Regions from separate parts of the Homo sapiens genome. Here regions 1, 3, 4, 5 and 6 are each reported to be linked to region 2. Evidence: microRNA targets listed by miRTarBase, many of them from high-throughput screens and not tested one by one. Region 2 holds a microRNA gene; each other region holds the end of a gene's coding sequence.
What was found. Region 2 holds the annotated microRNA hsa-miR-6884-5p (AGAGGCUGAGAAGGUGAUGUUG, at 1,032-1,053, opposite strand). A microRNA usually pairs through its seed, bases 2 to 8, with sites in the 3' UTR of a target mRNA and lowers its output. Matches are read on the target gene's strand: a 7mer-m8 pairs with bases 2 to 8, a 7mer-A1 pairs with bases 2 to 7 and ends in A, and an 8mer does both.

Region 1: miRTarBase lists RABAC1 as a target of hsa-miR-6884-5p. The part of its 3' UTR that is shown has no 7-base or 8-base seed match.
Region 3: the mRNA of CCL22 is a reported target of hsa-miR-6884-5p. Seed matches in the 3' UTR shown: 7mer-m8 at 1,534-1,540, 7mer-m8 at 1,669-1,675, 7mer-m8 at 1,858-1,864, 7mer-m8 at 2,036-2,042 and 7mer-m8 at 2,632-2,638.
Region 4: the mRNA of UNC93B1 is a reported target of hsa-miR-6884-5p. Seed matches in the 3' UTR shown: 7mer-m8 at 395-401.
Region 5: miRTarBase lists NACC1 as a target of hsa-miR-6884-5p. Seed matches in the 3' UTR shown: 7mer-m8 at 2,420-2,426 and 7mer-m8 at 2,056-2,062.
Region 6: the mRNA of MUC20 is a reported target of hsa-miR-6884-5p. The part of its 3' UTR that is shown has no 7-base or 8-base seed match.

What each region holds. Positions count from the first base shown.
Region 1 is chr19:41,954,334-41,957,464 of GRCh38, forward strand. It overlaps RABAC1 (Rab acceptor 1), which reads right to left. Exons shown (of 5, transcript NM_006423.3): 4 at 2,685-2,786; 5 at 2,350-2,601. The coding sequence ends at 2,513. Among named protein-coding and RNA genes, the nearest start is that of RABAC1, 3.4 kb to the right of the region's middle.
Region 2 is chr17:40,025,352-40,028,499 of GRCh38, forward strand. It overlaps MIR6884 (microRNA 6884), which reads right to left and starts at 1,058; the gene lies at 981-1,058. It overlaps MED24 (mediator complex subunit 24), which reads right to left. Exons shown (of 26, transcript NM_014815.4): 15 at 2,558-2,595; 16 at 2,032-2,114; 17 at 1,505-1,683; 18 at 1,296-1,395; 19 at 805-980. It overlaps SNORD124 (small nucleolar RNA, C/D box 124), which reads right to left and starts at 2,294; the gene lies at 2,191-2,294. RefSeq lists an enhancer at 1,296-2,206.
Region 3 is chr16:57,363,062-57,366,061 of GRCh38, forward strand. CCL22 (C-C motif chemokine ligand 22) reads left to right here. Exons shown (of 3, transcript NM_002990.5): 3 at 443-3,000. The coding sequence ends at 527. Among named protein-coding and RNA genes, the nearest start is that of CCL22, 5.8 kb to the left of the region's middle.
Region 4 is chr11:67,988,795-67,991,917 of GRCh38, reverse strand. UNC93B1 (unc-93B1 regulator of TLR signaling) reads left to right here. Exons shown (of 11, transcript NM_030930.4): 11 at 61-818. The coding sequence ends at 372. Among named protein-coding and RNA genes, the nearest start is that of UNC93B1, 14 kb to the left of the region's middle. RefSeq lists an enhancer at 81-686.
Region 5 is chr19:13,137,839-13,140,838 of GRCh38, reverse strand. NACC1 (nucleus accumbens associated 1) reads right to left here. Exons shown (of 6, transcript NM_052876.4): 6 at 1-2,692. The coding sequence ends at 2,433. Among named protein-coding and RNA genes, the nearest start is that of STX10, 11 kb to the left of the region's middle. RefSeq lists an enhancer at 2,961-3,000.
Region 6 is chr3:195,732,915-195,736,062 of GRCh38, forward strand. MUC20 (mucin 20, cell surface associated) reads left to right here. Exons shown (of 4, transcript NM_001282506.2): 4 at 236-637. The coding sequence ends at 304. Among named protein-coding and RNA genes, the nearest start is that of MUC20, 14 kb to the left of the region's middle. RefSeq lists an enhancer at 2,206-2,706.

The sequences.
Region 1 (3,131 bases), not on the chromosome of region 2:
AGAATTCCAGAACAGTGGGCATCAGTGGGCTCTGGGTGAGCACCTGCTGCATCAAGGATGAGTGGGTGAGTTCTGCTGAGGAGACACGAGGTTGGAGAGGCTGCATCCCTGAGGCCTTGGCACTCGCTGTCCCTCTCCTTGGGAAACTCCACCCACTTCTTGTGTCTCCTCAGAGAGCCCTCCCAGACCACCCCTATCTAAAGTAATTGGCGGGGCACGGTGGCTCACACATGTAATCCTAGCACTTTGGGAGGCCAAGACAGGTGGATCACCTGAGGTCAGGAGTTCGAGACCAGCCTGGGCAACACAGTGAAACCCTGTCTCTACCAAAAATACAAAAAAATCAGCCGGGCGTGGTGGCAGGCGCCTGTAATCCCAGCTACTCGGGAGGCTGAGGCAGGAGAATCACTTGAAACCGGGAGGTGGAGGTTGCAGTGAGTCGAGATCGCGCCATTGCACTCCAGCATGGGCAACAAGAGCGAAACTCCATCTCAAAAAAATTAAAAAATAAAACTAAAAATACAAAAATTAGTCAGGCGTGTTGGTGGGCACCTATAATCCCAGCTACCTGGGAGGCTGAGGCAGGAGAATAGCTTGAATCTTGGAAGTGGAGGTTACAGTGAGCCGAAATCACACCATTGCTCTCCAGCGTGGGCGACAGAGAGAGACTCCATCTCAAAAAAATAAACAAATAAATAAAAATAAAAAAATCAAGTCACTTCTTAGGCCCTCTCGGCCACCTCCCTTGTCTTCATCTGCCTGGCACTTTCCCTCCCAAGTGTGTTTCTCTTTTGTTACTGCTACCACGTGGCAGTCTCCACCTCATGATGAAAGGCAAACTGGACCCGGCACGGTGGCTCATGCCTGTAATCCCAGAACTTTGAGAGGCTGAGGCAGGAGGATTGCTTCAGCCCAGGAGTTTGAAACCAGGCCAGGCAACATAGTGAGACCCTGTCTAATGAAAAGTTAAAAAAAATTAGCTGGGTGTGGTGGCGTGCACCTGTGGTCCCAGCTGCTCAGGAGGCTGAGGTGGGAGGCTCACTTGAGCCCAAGAGGTAGATGCTGCAGTGAGCAGTGGTCACACCACTGCACTCCAGCCTGGGCCATAAAGTGAGACCCTGTCTCAAAAAAACAAAAGGCAAGAAGCAAACTGGGCTGGACACAGTGGCTCACACCAGTAGTCCCAGCACTATGGGAGGCTGCAGGGGGAGAATCGCTTGAGCCCAGGAATTTGAGACCAGCCTGGGAAACAAAGCAAAATCCATCTCACAAAAGCAAACTGTGTCTTTCATCTCAAGCAGAGTAAAACCCAAAGCCCTCACCGTGGCCCACAAGGCTCCCTGGCCTCCCACACTGTCCCCCTCGCTTATCTGCCCCAGCCACGCCCACCTCCTGGCTGCCCTCGAGCCTCCTGGCTGCTGCCATCTCCCAGGCTATGCCCCTGTGGCTTCCTCTGCCCCAATTATTCTTCCTCCAAAGGATCTGGGCTGCTCCCTCTCTCAATTTAGGTCTTTGGTGAATGTCACGTCAGGGAGGCCTTTTCTGGTCACCCTCTTTAACCCACAACTCATTCCCGAACTTTCTCTGTGCAGAAAAGAGTTAACCTGGCAGGCTCCACAACAGACTGCTGTCCTTAGACAGGCCTGGGTGCACAGTTGGTCCTTGGCTGGGAACTTGGGTGTTGGGGGGGGGGTCTTATCACTTCCTGATAGAGTGGCTCGCTGCATCTATCTAGGCTGTTCGTGCAGGCCTAGAGTGGCTTGCTGCATCTATCTAGGCTGTTCGTGCAGGCACAGGCCTTCTTTCTGGGAGCCTGGCATTTTGGTATATGTTGGAGAGAAGGTGCTCTTGTGGCCGCCCCCATGAAACCAAGGGCGCTGAGGCTAGGATCAGAGTGTCCCTGGCTGACATTTCACACGTCACCATGATCCACTGCTGGAGGAATTAGGTGTGGCCTCTGGAAGTGCATGCCTGGTTTCCCGAGTTCACTCCATGCACCTTTCCTTTTGGCTGACTTGGCTCCATACCCTTTGATGAGAGTAAATCAGAGCTGTGAGTGCAATTGCATACTGAGTCCCCAGTCCCAGAGAACCATCAAACCTGGGGTGCTCTCTGATTCCTGAGTCCTAAAGAACCATCAAACCTGGGGGTGGTCTCGGGGACCCCCGGCACACTGTCCTTCTCAACTCTTTTCTCCTCCTGAACACTCACCACCATTGGGCATCCCATAATATTTTACCTGTTTACCTTGTCATCGTCTTGCCCACACCCCAGGTTCCACCCCAACCCTGCTCTGTGCAGTATTCCCAGCTCCACCCATAGAGACCCACAGAAGATGCTGGGGGAATATTTCCTGAATGACACCCATAACAGCTTTATTTTCAAAGGCGGGATCCCTCCCCGGGCTTGTGATGGGACGGCGCTGTGGGCCCGAGCAGCAGAGCCGTGCAGGACAGGCATGGGCAGGGGTGGGGCAGCTGGCCCGGGAGGCCGGCAGGTCCCAGAAGACACCTCACACGGGTTCCATCTGCAGCTCCTCCCCGTCCACAGCCTCAATCTGGTGGAAGGCAGCGTGGGAGCCGATGACCACCAGGGTGGCTCCTGCAGGAAAGCCGGCAGCTCAGGGCCACACTCCTGCACCTGGCTCCCACCATCCACCCCAGCTGCTCAGACCCTGTACTCACCCAGCACCCAGAAGACGGCCGAGCCCGCACCAGCCAGCCAGAAGAAGGGGAAGGAGATGCCTCCAGCCAGAGCATACTGATGCGCTGGGCTCACCTCTCGGCCTGGGGGCAGATGGCATTGGGGTGCTGTTCCGACTCTCCATGCCCTCTCCCAGAGTAACCCCTGCTGCCCCCCAACAATCCGTACAAGCTCCAGGTTCTCGGGATCGAATCCAAACTCCTCATGCCAAGGCCCTCCAGGTCCTGGGGTCACCCTGTTCCCCTGCTGTCCCCACTGCCCTCCAGAACACAGCACACCGTCCTCGCCTGCCTCAGCCCCACCCTCTGCCCTCTGCCCCACATCCTCCAGGAAGTTCCTGGGATCCCGGCTTCCTGCTCCCTAGACTAGGGCTCTCCTGCTGCAACCCTCGCGCAGACCAGGGTCTCAAACTGGTGGCCCAAGGGCCA
Region 2 (3,148 bases):
CAGCTACTCGGGAGGCTGAGGCGAGAGGATCACTTGAGCCCAGGAATTTGAGGTTGCAGTGAGACTCACTCTGATCTGGGCAAGGGTAAGACCTTGTCTCAACAACAACAACAACAAAAAGTATAAAGTAGTCAAATTCCTAGACACACAAAGTAAAATGGTAGTTACCAGGAGCTGGAGGGAGGGGAAAATAGGAAGCTGTTGTTCAGTGGGTATGGAGTTTCAGAGATGCAAGAAAGTTCTGGAGACCTGTTACACAACAGTGTGAATATACTTAACACTACTGAACAGTACACTTAAACATGGCTAAGATGGCAAATCTTATGTGTTTTTTACAATTAAAAAAAGCAAACAACTTATTGGTTGGGTGAATGAACTCAACGTAACTGGTCACCAGGGAAGTCCTCCAAGCCCCTGAAGAGCCAGGGCAGGAAACTGTCCTAAGAGGTAACTGAGGGTGGGGCATGGCCTGTAAAATCTACAGACAGGTTCCTAGCTCCTAGACAGTCACACAGCTTTGTTCTTTTGGGAGCTAGTTGTCTAGAACTTGAGTCTCTGCGGGCAGACCCTGTTTAGGGTCTGCATTTCTGACAACACAGCAGGTGCTGGCATATAAACGCTTCTGCCACAGAGACACAGTACATGTTTGCTGAGTCAGATGAGTGAATGCATGAATAGGAAAGTGAGTGAGTGATCAAGTAGCGTGTTTGCGAAGGTCAGAAAAGAGAGGGGTGCTTGTTATTGGATGTGCTGACTTCTCACAACACACTTGAAGGGTCTGAGAAGGGAAGGCAGGTTACCGACCTCTCATTGTAGAACTGCAGGGTGTTCTCACTAAACAGTGGCCCTGCCAGCTGGCGGATCATCTGCAGCGACTTCTCACGCTCATCCAGCCCCAGCATCCGGACGTGGGCCACAAGCCAAGCCACAGCACACACCGCCAGACTGCATACCTTCCCTTTGATGTTATCAGTGATTTTCTAGGGGAGACGGAAAGGTGATGGGCTACCATCTATCTCCCTTTCTTGAGCCAACATCACCTTCTCAGCCTCTGCGGGCAGCTAAGTGCAGCGGGTGGAGTCCCGGGCCACATTCCACACCTCTCTCCACAAGTTTGATCTTCCCAGAGCTACCTGGGCCAGAGGGAGTAGCTAAGACAACGATTACACAAAATATCAATATCAAAACATGAGCTCCTGGATTAAAGGTCTTCTTGCCCTTACGAAATATAACAAGTCATCACTGGCTGGCTCTGTGTCTCAGGGGAGCAAACGCTGCTGGGAAGGCGGGGCTACCTGGATGGACTCGAAGGCCAGGACCCCATTCTCCCAGGCATTGAGGATTTCCAAGATGGCGGCTGAGATGCTGAGACAGGCCTCATGCCACTTCATCTGCCTGCGGGTGTGCAGAGAAGTCAGCACAGGGGAGCAAGGAACGGGCTCAGGGAGCGGGTCTTGACCCTGCCCCCACCGCCACCCTTGGAGTGGGCGCCCGGGCCACTGACACTAGCTTCATCTCCGAGGAGTTGTTGAGCAGGGCCACCAGGGACTCCACTTTGGTGGAGTCGGGGCGGAAGCAGGGGTGGTCAGGGTTCAGGATCTTGCCCTCCTCAGGCATGCAGGTCTGCATCCAGGTCTCGAAGAAGGGCACCTCAGCTCCTGTGCGCGACTCGGACAGAATCACCTGGGAAAGGGGAAGGGGGGCACCAGCCGAGTGGGGAGGGCGCGGCGCCTGCCAGCGCTGGACCTGGGGCTGCACTGTTTCCCGCCAGGCTGCTGCTCCAGCCCAGCCCAAAGACTGGGGACGAACTGGTCTAAGGGAGCCAGACGGGGGCAATGCTGCCACCTAGTGGTCAATGTGAACATAGGGCTGAAGGTGCCTCTACGGACTCCAGCCCGGGTGGGCACCTGGTTTCTGAGGCCCACAGAACTAACTGGCTGAGAGGCTGCGGGGGCGCAGGCAGTGAGGTGGGGAGAGTTCCGGGTTACCTCCTTCCCTTGAGCCCCCGTCCCGGTCGCTCCCCTCTCTCACCTCTGAACCATAGGTCTGGGCCACATGGCACAGCATGAGGAAGGAGATGTCAAACAGCAGGGCCCGGACGGAGGCCGGTTTGGCTGTGGAAGGACGGGAAGGCTGAGCTCCCAGACGAGGGCAGGGGGGAGCCCGTGTCTGGGTTGACAGGGATCGGGATTTGCCTCTAGGAAGGTCAGGGACCAAGTGGCTCCTTCAAAGCTCTGAGGCTCAGAATCCTTTTCTTGAGTCTCAACTGGAACATCATCCCTTCCTTGAGACCAAAGACCCCCAGCACCCTCTCCTGGCATACCTAACCAAGTCGTAAAGGGATGAGGGGGGGAAGGAGACACAGGGATGGTCTGGGAAGAATCCTTTTCCAGCATTATCCACTTTCAAGCTCTGTGGAAGCTTCCATTGGTCATGGCTCTGAGGAGGGAGCACAGCCTCCCCCTGTTGAGCTGGGGAGCCCTCCTCCCTCCCACACTCTCCCGCCACACCCCTCCTCAGGGCCCACTGGGCCTGCGGATGCACAGGGCTGACTTACTGCTTTCTTCGCTGCCATAGGTTGTGAATTCATTCAAACTGAAAGGAATGGAGACAGGCTGCATTGACCAGGGCATGAGCTGAGCAGTAGCTGGGCGCTGGGGCTACACATGTTCAGAGAGCGATAGCTAGAGTCTGAGTTACTGGTTAAACTTAAAATGAGACACATTGCTATAGAAAAAAGGTTTTTGTGGTTTTTGTTTTTTGTTTTTTTTTTGTTTTTTTTGAGAAAGAGTCTCGCTCTGTCACCCAGGCTGGAGTGCAGTGGCACAATCTCAGCTCACTGCAACCTCCGCCTCTGTTCAAGCAATTCTTCTGCCTCAGTCTCCCAAGTAGCTGGGATTACAGGTGCCCGCCACCACACCCGGCTAATTTTTTGTATTTTTAGTAGAGACAGGGTTTCACCAAGTTGGCCAGGCCGGTCTTGAACTCCTGACCTCAGGTGATCCGCCCACCTTGGCCTCCCTAAGTGCTAGGATTACAGGCGTGAGCCACCGCACCCGGCCAGAAGGATTTTTATTGTTAGAAGATTTCCAAGGCCTAGAGAATGGCTCACTGAATGGAACCATGTTCTATATATGTCAAATTCCAG
Region 3 (3,000 bases), not on the chromosome of region 2:
CTGGGCTCACTGCAGCCTTGACCTCCTGAGTCCAAGCAATCCTCCCACCTCAGCCTCCCAAGTAGCTGAGATCACAGGCAGATGTCACCATGCCTGGCTGACTTGTACGTTTTTGTAGAGACAGGGTTTTGCCATGTTGCCCAGGATGGCCTTAAACCCCTAGGCTCAAACAATCCTCCTGCCTCGGCCTCCCAAAGTGCTGGGATTACAGGCGTGAACTCCTGGCCTCCTCTTCCTCCTGAGAAATATTCTTTTCACACCACAGGTGGCTTGTAAATTTTGAACCACTCTATTTAGCAGATAATGTCATATGTAGTAGGTGACTCATAAATGCTGAGCCCTGCATAAAGTAGGTGGCTCATAAATGCTAAGCTCCCGAGGGTGTGGCATCCTTGCTGCGTGCTAATGTTGCTGCATTGTCTCTGGGGTCTCCTTCTTCCAGGTTGCTAACCTTCAGGGATAAGGAGATCTGTGCCGATCCCAGAGTGCCCTGGGTGAAGATGATTCTCAATAAGCTGAGCCAATGAAGAGCCTACTCTGATGACCGTGGCCTTGGCTCCTCCAGGAAGGCTCAGGAGCCCTACCTCCCTGCCATTATAGCTGCTCCCCGCCAGAAGCCTGTGCCAACTCTCTGCATTCCCTGATCTCCATCCCTGTGGCTGTCACCCTTGGTCACCTCCGTGCTGTCACTGCCATCTCCCCCCTGACCCCTCTAACCCATCCTCTGCCTCCCTCCCTGCAGTCAGAGGGTCCTGTTCCCATCAGCGATTCCCCTGCTTAAACCCTTCCATGACTCCCCACTGCCCTAAGCTGAGGTCAGTCTCCCAAGCCTGGCATGTGGCCCTCTGGATCTGGGTTCCATCTCTGTCTCCAGCCTGCCCACTTCCCTTCATGAATGTTGGGTTCTAGCTCCCTGTTCTCCAAACCCATACTACACATCCCACTTCTGGGTCTTTGCCTGGGATGTTGCTGACACCCAGAAAGTCCCACCACCTGCACATGTGTAGCCCCACCAGCCCTCCAAGGCATTGCTCGCCCAAGCAGCTGGTAATTCCATTTCATGTATTAGATGTCCCCTGGCCCTCTGTCCCCTCTTAATAACCCTAGTCACAGTCTCCGCAGATTCTTGGGATTTGGGGGTTTTCTCCCCCACCTCTCCACTAGTTGGACCAAGGTTTCTAGCTAAGTTACTCTAGTCTCCAAGCCTCTAGCATAGAGCACTGCAGACAGGCCCTGGCTCAGAATCAGAGCCCAGAAAGTGGCTGCAGACAAAATCAATAAAACTAATGTCCCTCCCCTCTCCCTGCCAAAAGGCAGTTACATATCAATACAGAGACTCAAGGTCACTAGAAATGGGCCAGCTGGGTCAATGTGAAGCCCCAAATTTGCCCAGATTCACCTTTCTTCCCCCACTCCCTTTTTTTTTTTTTTTTTGAGATGGAGTTTCGCTCTTGTCACCCACGCTGGAGTGCAATGGTGTGGTCTTGGCTTATTGAAGCCTCTGCCTCCTGGGTTCAAGTGATTCTCTTGCCTCAGCCTCCTGAGTAGCTGGGATTACAGGTTCCTGCTACCACGCCCAGCTAATTTTTGTATTTTTAGTAGAGACGAGGCTTCACCATGTTGGCCAGGCTGGTCTCGAACTCCTGTCCTCAGGTAATCCGCCCACCTCAGCCTCCCAAAGTGCTGGGATTACAGGCGTGAGCCACAGTGCCTGGCCTCTTCCCTCTCCCCACCCCCCCCCCAACTTTTTTTTTTTTTTATGGCAGGGTCTCACTCTGTCGCCCAGGCTGGAGTGCAGTGGCGTGATCTCGGCTCACTACAACCTCGACCTCCTGGGTTCAAGCGATTCTCCCACCCCAGCCTCCCAAGTAGCTGGGATTACAGGTGTGTGCCACTACGGCTGGCTAATTTTTGTATTTTTAGTAGAGACAGGTTTCACCATATTGGCCAGGCTGGTCTTGAACTCCTGACCTCAAGTGATCCACCTTCCTTGTGCTCCCAAAGTGCTGAGATTACAGGCGTGAGCTATCACACCCAGCCTCCCCCTTTTTTTCCTAATAGGAGACTCCTGTACCTTTCTTCGTTTTACCTATGTGTCGTGTCTGCTTACATTTCCTTCTCCCCTCAGGCTTTTTTTGGGTGGTCCTCCAACCTCCAATACCCAGGCCTGGCCTCTTCAGAGTACCCCCCATTCCACTTTCCCTGCCTCCTTCCTTAAATAGCTGACAATCAAATTCATGCTATGGTGTGAAAGACTACCTTTGACTTGGTATTATAAGCTGGAGTTATATATGTATTTGAAAACAGAGTAAATACTTAAGAGGCCAAATAGATGAATGGAAGAATTTTAGGAACTGTGAGAGGGGGACAAGGTGGAGCTTTCCTGGCCCTGGGAGGAAGCTGGCTGTGGTAGCGTAGCGCTCTCTCTCTCTGTCTGTGGCAGGAGGCAAAGAGTAGGGTGTAATTGAGTGAAGGAATCCTGGGTAGAGACCATTCTCAGGTGGTTGGGCCAGGCTAAAGACTGGGATTTGGGTCTATCTATGCCTTTCTGGCTGATTTTTGTAGAGACGGGGTTTTGCCATGTTACCCAGGCTGGTCTCAAACTCCTGGGCTCAAGCGATCCTCCTGGCTCAGCCTCCCAAAGTGCTGGGATTACAGGCGTGAGTCACTGCGCCTGGCTTCCTCTTCCTCTTGAGAAATATTCTTTTCATACAGCAAGTATGGGACAGCAGTGTCCCAGGTAAAGGACATAAATGTTACAAGTGTCTGGTCCTTTCTGAGGGAGGCTGGTGCCGCTCTGCAGGGTATTTGAACCTGTGGAATTGGAGGAGGCCATTTCACTCCCTGAACCCAGCCTGACAAATCACAGTGAGAATGTTCACCTTATAGGCTTGCTGTGGGGCTCAGGTTGAAAGTGTGGGGAGTGACACTGCCTAGGCATCCAGCTCAGTGTCATCCAGGGCCTGTGTCCCTCCCGAACCCAGGGTCAACCTGCCTACC
Region 4 (3,123 bases), not on the chromosome of region 2:
GCGGGGAAGGTGCGGGGCGAGGCGGCCGCGGGTCCCTGGCATCCCTCTCCTTACGCCCAGGCTAAGCTGGCGGTGCTGCTGGTGACGCTGGTGGCGGCCGCGGTCTCCTACCTGCGGATGGAGCAGAAGCTGCGCCGGGGCGTGGCCCCGCGCCAGCCCCGCATCCCGCGGCCCCAGCACAAGGTGCGCGGTTACCGCTACTTGGAGGAGGACAACTCGGACGAGAGCGACGCGGAGGGCGAGCATGGGGACGGCGCGGAGGAGGAGGCGCCGCCCGCAGGGCCCAGGCCTGGCCCCGAGCCCGCTGGACTCGGCCGCCGGCCCTGCCCGTACGAACAGGCGCAGGGGGGAGACGGGCCGGAGGAGCAGTGAGGGGCCGCCTGGTCCCCGGACTCAGCCTCCCTCCTCGCCGGCCTCAGTTTACCACGTCTGAGGTCGGGGGGACCCCCTCCGAGTCCCGCGCTGTCTTCAAAGGCCCCTGTCTCCCCTCCCCCACGTTGGGGACGCCCCTCCCAGAGCCCAGGTCACCTCCGGGCTTCCGCAGCCCCCTCCAAGGCGGAGTGGAGCCTTGGGAACCCCTCGGCCAAGCACAGGGGTTCGAAAATACAGCTGAAACCCCGCGGGCCCTTAGCACGCGCCCCAGCGCCGGAGCACGGTCAGGGTCTTCTTGCGACCCGGCCCGCTCCAGATCCCCACAGCTCTCGGCCGCGGACCCGGGCCGCGTGTGAGCGCACTTTGCACCTCCTATCCCCAGGGTCCGCCGAGAGCCACGATTTTTTACAGAAAATGAGCAATAAAGAGATTTTGTACTGTCCTGACTGGGGAGTCCCAGGCCGCGGGGGACGGATGCACGGATGCCCTGGGATGCACGCACGGCTGGCCCGGCCTCTGGGCGCAGTGGTGACAGGCCCTGACCTAGGGGGACCGCGTGGTGTGGGGAGTGCCGCGCCCTACTGGGGGCGGGGCGAGGTGTCCGTAGGCCCCGCCCACCAGCCCTTCCTCCCTCCTGAGGCCCCGCCCCCCCATACCTGCCTGCCTTTGCCAGCCCCAGCCAGGAGAAGGGAGCGGCGGAGCGGCTGGCAGAGACAGAGGAGGGTGTGACGGCGTTGCTGGTCCCCCATGGGTCCAGAGGGCGAGACAGACTCCCGAGACACACCCTCCAGAGGCCTGTGTAGGCATCCTCCGCCCTCCAGCGACCACCCCCGCGTCGGACAGGGTCCACTTCCGAGCCACGGTGGGGTCACCCTGTGCCCAGTAGGGGCCTTGGAAGTGGTGGTTGGAGGCCAGGTACGCTCGGTGACTACCCTTTCCCGGCTACAGCCTCAGCTGCGATGCCCACGAGAAACAGGCTGGTGGAGGGGCAGACCCCCTACAAGGCCTGAAGGTGCCGTTCCTCCACCCGCTCCTCTTGTGGCCAGAGGAGAGGACACCCCCGCCATGAAGAGCTCTGAACGGTTGGGTGAGGACAAGTGGGGGCCGTGGGAGGGCCATGGAGCCCCCAGCTGCACCCCAGCAGGCCCGGGGCTGGCCCACACCATTCCTCACTCCCCACAGCCTCTTTACCCCTGACTTTGGCGAGACCCTCGTCCGTACCTCCAGGCTCCATGCCTGCCTCAGCATCGCTCTATGGATTCTCCCAGCCCTAAACTGGCCCCATCTCTCCTCTCTGCCCTCATGTGAGTTTGGTTCTTGAAGCCTCTAGTGGTCCCTGGGGCCAGACTCTGTGGCCTTGGACAGGGAGTCTGCCATCTGAGCCACAGGTTCCTTCTCTGTTGAGTGTGTGAGGGAACATGTTGGAGCCCTTAGTGTGGCGGCAGCAAGCGCACCAGGCCCTGTAAGAAACACAAAAGGGTGCGGCGGGAGACTTGACATTTTCTAAATCTGGGAGGGAACGCTGCCTGCCTCACGCCGACCTTCAGTGACAAGCAGACTCAGAAGCGGTCCCGAGGTGCCACCATAACCTGGGTGAAGGCCAGCACTGTGTGCTTCCAGTTCCCCCTCGGCATCTGTAGACTGAGTGTTCTCTGGAGGTGGCTGGCGACATCCTCTAGGCAGGCTCCAGCAAAACCAGTCGGAGTTGGGCAACCTGACGCTCAGATGATTCACCTCTGAATGGAGGGCAAGGTGATATTTGGAAGGGTGTGGGCCCCTGGGATGCTGGGCAAACGGGGAGCAGGTGCCTGGATAGTGGGCCTACAGCTCTTCCCAGTTCCGAGTCAATTCCAATGTCCATGGTGCCAAGGAACAGAGGCTGTGATGTTGAGCAGACTTGAAGGTGATCCAGGCACATGGAGTGGCCACTCAGGGGCTTGGCTCCTGGCTGTGCTCTTCCTATCTGGGCATTTCCCATGAGAAGGCTTCACAGGCCACCTGGCTGCTCCTGGCACACGGAGAATGCCCAGATGCTGACATGTGCCAGACAACACATATTTACACCTGATAGGCCACACACATGCAACATGCAAACACACGTGACGGGTAACACCTGTGACAGACACTACATGACAACACACATGCACACATGATGGGAAACACATATCACAGGCTGTGCGACGGGCAACACAGCGCAGGCAGTGCGACGGGCCCTGGCAGCAAGCTCAGCAGGCTGGCTCTTTTCGAGCAGGAGAAGAGCTCATTGTAAGAGATGACACTGGCGTAGGTGGCACCTCCCCTGTCTCCATCACCCCCGGATAAGGTGACTGGGTGGAGGTTCTGGACCCCTGAGTGGATAAGCAGGTTGTGTCATGGCCTCCGTGTCTGATTGCCACCCTCGCTCCCAAAGCAACTCTGTGATTTTGTCGATCTGCACTGTGGGGATTTTTCTTTTTCTTTCTCTTTTCTTTTCTTTTCTTTTTTTTTTTTTTTTTGCAACGGAGTTTCACTCTTGTTGCCCAGGCTGGAGTGCAATGGCATGATCTCAGCTCACTGCAACCTCCATCTCCTGGGTTCCAGCGATTCTCCTACCTCAGCTTCCCGAGTAGCGGGGATTACAGGCGCCCACCACCAAGCCAGGCAATTTTTTTTTTGTATTTTTAGTAGAGACGAAGTTTCACCATGTTGGCCAACCTGGTCTCAAACTCCTGACCTCAGGTGATCCACCTGCCTCGGCATCCCAAAGTGCTG
Region 5 (3,000 bases), not on the chromosome of region 2:
TGCCCAGGGTGGGGGAACCATGCAGCTCAGGGCAGGGGAGGAAGAGAAGGAAAAAGCAGCAGGCCGCCCAGGGGTAGGGGTGGAGGGTGAATGGCAGGGCAAGGGGGGTACAGGGGTGGCTCCTGGGGTAAGGCACAACCCTGTCTTTGGCTCTCCTGGTGAGGAGTTTCCTCCCCTGCACCCCCTGCCCGACCCTTCTCCCCACCCCCCCACCCCCCGGACCCACACACAGTCCTGGGAGCCAGGGGGCACCTCCTGGGGTCCCTGAAACAAGTGGGCTCTGCCACCCAAGCCAATGCCACAGGGGCTCGAGGAGGGACACCCGAGGAAAAGGCAGAGAGGGGCAGGCAGGGGCCTACCCAGGACAAGGGGGTGGGGGTGAGAAGACCCCAGGCCCAGGAGCTGGCCCCCCCACCCCAACTAAGGCCTGGAAGTGGGGGAGCACCTTCCTTTCAGGGGTCTGGCTGGAGCCCCGGTCTGCCCCTCGGCCTCCGTCAGGCCCAGCCGCTTGCCAAGTGACCAGGGCATTGTGCTTTGGGGTAAACGCTGGGGTGGGGTGGCAGGCCAGGAGGCGGGGGGAGAGGAGGGGTGACTAAGGTGCTTGTGCTTTAGCTGGGGGTGTCAATATCCCCCACTCAGGCCGGCTGGGGGCTAAGGTTTCAGGCCCCGGCCAGGAAGACAGTGCCAAGACCCCAGCCAGACCCTGGCACTCATGACTGACCCCCGCAACAAGCAGATGTTAAGAGGGACCCCCAGTGGGCCGGCGGGGCTGCTGGTCCCATCGGGGGGATGGTCTCCAAATCAGATTACAAGGGTCCAGTAGGGGCTGGCCCCCACCCCATCTCCTAAAATCCCCCTGCCCCTGGAGAGACCCCTGGGAGCAGTGGGTAGGTGGGGGTTGGGGAGGCAGATGAGAGGCAGGGAGGACGAGGGCCAGAAACACAAACAAGGATGTGGATGTGGATGGTGAAATGACACCCTGCATAGGGGGATGGGGAGTTAAAAAAGAAAAAAAACTGCCTTCACATGAAAATCTAAAACAACAACAAAAAACCACCCACTCTGGGCGAGAACAAAAAGAGAGGAATGGTAAAAGAGAAAATTCTGCAAACAACTGCTAACAATGGAAGTGGACCCGGCCCTGCCCTGCCCTGCCCAGCCCCCAGGAGCTGGGCCCAGCCAACCAGCCAAGGCCTGGGACACCCTTAAACTATAGCCCTGTTGGGGAAGGTGAACAGGGGAGGGGGACCCACAGGACCCACAGGAGCCTAGGCAGCAGCTGGGACTGGAGTCCTACCATGGAAACACACACACACACTCCACACATACACACCCACACACACACATTCAGCCTGCCCCCCAGCCCCCCAACACCGCCCTGCCTTCCAAGGCCCCCCACCCCTGGGGACCGAGGGGGACAATAGACACAGCCCCATTGGTTTGAAAAATAAAAGGAATCTTATACTTCAATATTTCATTCGCTAAAAAAAGGTTTTAAAAATTATGTACAGGGGGGTGGGGGCCAGGAGCCCTGCTGTGGGGTGGGGTGGGTGTGGGGAGATGGAGGGAGGGGCAACAGCCCCCCAGTCTGCTCCCCTGGGTTCCAACCCAGGTCCTACTGCCTCTTGTATCTTCATTTGTTTGAAAGCAAAACTTCTGCACACACACACGCACACACTCTGCCAGCCCTGGAAACCTCTCATTCTATCCTCCGAGACCCTCGGTCTGCCCCCAGGAGACCCCCCCTCCTTTAGGACCTGCCTCTCTGAGGCCCCAGAGGACCAAAGGGAGCAACAGAGGCGGAAGAGGAGAAAGGGCACCAGGCACGCCACTGCCGGCCACCTGAGGTCGGTTGTGCAATTTCTCGGAGCCTGTTTCCCCAGCTATAAAATGGGTAGTCCCCACGGCCTCGCCTACCCCAGCCCCCAGGCGCAGGGATAGACGAGGGTGACAGGAAGGCGCTTTTGGAGACGTGGAAGCACTGGGAGGTGGTGGGAGGGGTCCTGAGAACCCCTGGGGCCCCCCTCAAGTCCCAAGGGGCTGCAGTGAGGGGCGGAGGCTGAAGGCTTCCGCGAGGTGGCCTAGGGCCTGGGGAGGGGCCTTCCCAAGACCCCCAGGCCAGCCCCCTCCCCTGGTGGGCCTGGTGAGTGTGGAGATGACGGCTAGGGGTTAGGTTGGGGAGCCAGAACTCCCCCACTGCACGAGTGTGTGTTAAAGAAGGCAACACGGACCTCACGCCACCTGCCCTGCGGTCCTCTCCCGGCCCAGCTCTCGGTGGGGAAAGGGGGTAGGACAGGAGGGGCAGAGGGCCGGGAACATGCAGCACCCACCGCGGGTCCTGGGGAGGGACAGACAGTAGCTCATGACCAAGATGGCAGGTGTGTGTGTGTGTTGGGAGGGGAAGTGTGTGGCCCCGCGGGAGGCTGGGCGGGTTACTGCAGGGCTTCAGCCGAGGGACCCGCCTCGCCCTCGTGGCTGGCGGTCTCGAAGCCATGCTCCACACCCATCATGTCCGGCTCGATCTTGCCCGTTTCACTGATGAAGGTGGTGTAGGCGTCATCCTCAGCCTTGAGCACCTTGACCTTGGGCATCCAGCTCTTGCGCACGACGCGGCGGGCGTTGGTGCACATGTCGGCCGCGATGGCATTCATCTCGCTCTCCTTGAAGTTGGGGGCGAAGTTCTGGCAGTAGTCTGTGGGGCAGGGTGGGTGCGGCCTTGGCACGGGGGCCAGGTGACTCCCACAAGGCCTACTCACCAGCTCCCCTACAGCATCTGCGACTCCCTCTCAAAGGGGAAACGAGTGAGGCCACGCGGCCAGGACACCACACTACGTGCACCCAACCCTACACCGGACTGAGTTCAGCCATGTGTGGGGATGTGTTGGTTTTGATGGGATGGCCCCGTGTTCTTGAAAAATTCGGATCATTTGCCAGAATTTAGTAACGGGGAGTGGTCACTTGAAAATCTAGATGCCCCCCATGACGAGTGGCTAGCACTGT
Region 6 (3,148 bases), not on the chromosome of region 2:
TGCGACTTTCATCCCTTATAAAATGAGGATCCTAACACCTGCTTTATAAGGTTGCTGTGAGGTTTAGATGACATAATGTGTGTGAGGCACCAGCCTGTGTCCAGCATGTAGGAGGCCCAGGAAGGGTTGCCGTCCTCCGCATGCACTCTGCCCCAGTGTCCCTTCCTGTCCTCTGCCTCTGGCGAGCTCATGGGCCAGATGGGCTGAAAGGACAGCTGGCTCTTTTGCTCTCCAGCTCCACCGGGAACTCCACGCCCACGCGCCTCACTTCCAGGTCTCCTTACTGCGTGTCAGGAGAGGCTAACGGACATCAGCTGCAGCCAGGCATGTCCCGTATGCCAAAAGAGGGTGCTGCCCCTAGCCTGGGCCCCCACCGACAGACTGCAGCTGCGTTACTGTGCTGAGAGGTACCCAGAAGGTTCCCATGAAGGGCAGCATGTCCAAGCCCCTGACCCCAGATGTGGCAACAGGACCCTCGCTCACATCCACCGGAGTGTATGTGTGGGGAGGGGCTTCACCTGTTCCCAGAGGTGTCCTTGGACTCACCTTGGCACATGTTCTGTGTTTCAGTAAAGAGAGACCTGATCACCCATCTGTGTGCTTCCATCCTGCATTAAAATTCACTCAGTGTGGCCCAGAGGCTGTCTATTGATCTGCATGCTTTCGCCATTTTTATAGTACAGGGATTGTGTATAGTCTCACTGCTACCTCCTCCTTCTACTCCCCCAGGTCTTGGTTTGGACTTTGATGATAGCATTTACTGAGACGGGCCTGGAGCCTGTCGAACAGCCCGCTGCAGCAGGGCAGGGACCACCTTTGTTCATCTCAGTATCCCCTGAACTAGCAGAGTGTCTGGCCTGCAGTGGGATCGCAGAGAATGTGGAATTGACCTAAATTTAAATTTCAAGTTCTGGACACAAGCCTCAATTATTCCTCTTATATGTTATAACTTACATGCTATTATTTTTTTAAAAAATTAATATGGTTTACTTTTTATTATAAAAGTAAAACTTGGCCAGGCTCAGTGGCTCACGCCTGTAATCCCAGCACTTTGGGAGGCCGAGGCCGGTGGATCACGAGGTCAGGAGTTTGAGACTAGCCTGGCCAACATGGTGAAACCCCGTCTCTACTAAAAACACGAAAATTAGCTGGGTGTGGTGGCAGGTGCCTGTAATCCCAGCTACCCAGGAGGCTGAGACGGGAGAATCACTTGAACCCGGGAGGCAGAGGTTGCAGTGACCCAAGATCCTACCACTGCACCCCAGCCTGGGCAAAAGGGCAAGACTCTGTCTCATAAATAAATAAATTTAAAATAAAAGTAAAACTTGTTTATGATTTCAAAATTTTGAAATATTCCAAAGACCAAGCAAAGTAAGAAGTGGGAAGAGGAGAAAGAAAAACTTTTCTATAATCCCACCTCTTAGATACAACGATTTATTTTTTAAAATTGAGACAGGGTCTCACTCTCACCCAAACTGCAGTGCAGTGGTGCGACCATGGCTCACTGCAGCCTCCACCTCCCAGCTCCAGTGATCCTCCCACCTCAGCCTCCTGAGGAGCTGGGACCACAGCTGGCTAATTTTTGTACTTTGTTTTGTAAAAAAGGGGCTTTACCATGTTGAGCAGGTTGGTCTCGATCTTCTGAGCTCAAGCAGTCCTCCTGCCTCAGACTCGCAAAGTGCTGGGATTACAGACATGAGCCACTGTGCCCAGCCTTATATACAGCTATTATTATTAATGTATACTGTGTATTCATTTCAATTCTTAATCTCTCCACTTGGATGTTGATGAAATACATACCTCACATTCAACATTTCTTTCTTTTTTTTTTTCTTTTTGAGATGGAAAGGAGCCTGGCTCTGTCACCCAGGCTGGAGTGCAGTGGCGTGATCTCAGCTCACTGCAAGCTCCACCTCTTGGGTTCACGTGATTCTCCTGCCTCAGCCTCCTGAGTATCTGGGACTACAGGTGCCACCACCATGCTCGGCTAATTTTTTGAATTTTTAGTAGAGACGGAGTTTCACCGTGTCAGCCAGCCTGGTCTCAAACTCCTGACCTCAAGTGATCCACCCACCTCGGCCTCCCAAAGTGCTGGGATTCCAGTTAATGAGCACTGCTCCTGGCCTCCACATTTCTAAAATCGAAGTTCTGATCTTTTCCTCTGGACCTGCCCCACCTGCATCTTCCCCATCTCAGTTAACGTCAGTTGCATCCTTCAGGTGCTCAGGCCGAAATCCTCGGCACCGTCTTTATTCCCCTCTCACATTTTGCACCAGGAAATTCTGCTGGCTCTAAGGCCATCAAACTGTGCCCAGAATGTGGCCCCTCCTCAGCATCTCCAGTGCTACCACCGAGATGGTCCACGATGCCATCATCTCTCACCTGCACTACTACAGGTCTCCCTGTTTCCAGCTCAGCCCCCACCCCAGTCTAGTCCCAGTGTGTCAGCCAGGGCTGTCTTTTTACAACATAAGGCAGACCACACCACTTCTTTGCTCCAATCCTCCCATTTCACTCAGAAGAAAAGCTCCGACAACAGCTGCAAAGCCGTGCACGACCTGCGCCCCTCCCCTGCCTCCTTAATTTGCTGACTGCACCGCAGCCACACGGACGTCTTTCTTGTCCCTTGAATGCGCTGGGCCTGCTCTTGCCTTGGGACCTTTCTGTGCATTGCTTAGTCTGCTCAGAAGCCTTCTCCTCTACATATCCACTTGTCTAAACCCTCTACCTCCACCTTCATGCCCCTTCTCAGCGAGGTCTACCATGACCATGCTGCCTACAAATTCAGTCTCCCCTTCTGTACTTTGACGTACTTTATAGTGCTGATCACAATTGAACGTCATACATATTTTGTTTTCTTTATTATCTGAGTCCTCCAACTAGAATGAAAGATTTTGCCCATTATGGTTTCCCTAGTGCCAAGAACAGTACCTGGCACATACCAGGGGCTCAGTAAACATTTGTTAGATGAATGAAGGAAACAAGGAGACAATGTTGATGCTGCTGTGAGCAAGGGGAGTCTGAACGTTTGACAGATCCCTTCCATTTCTGGAGTGGGGCAGAATGAGTTTCATAAAGTAGCTCGGACAAAAATAATTCGCTCATCTTGGCATATATGTTGGGCAGCTGCCGCAGAAGAGAGACTGAG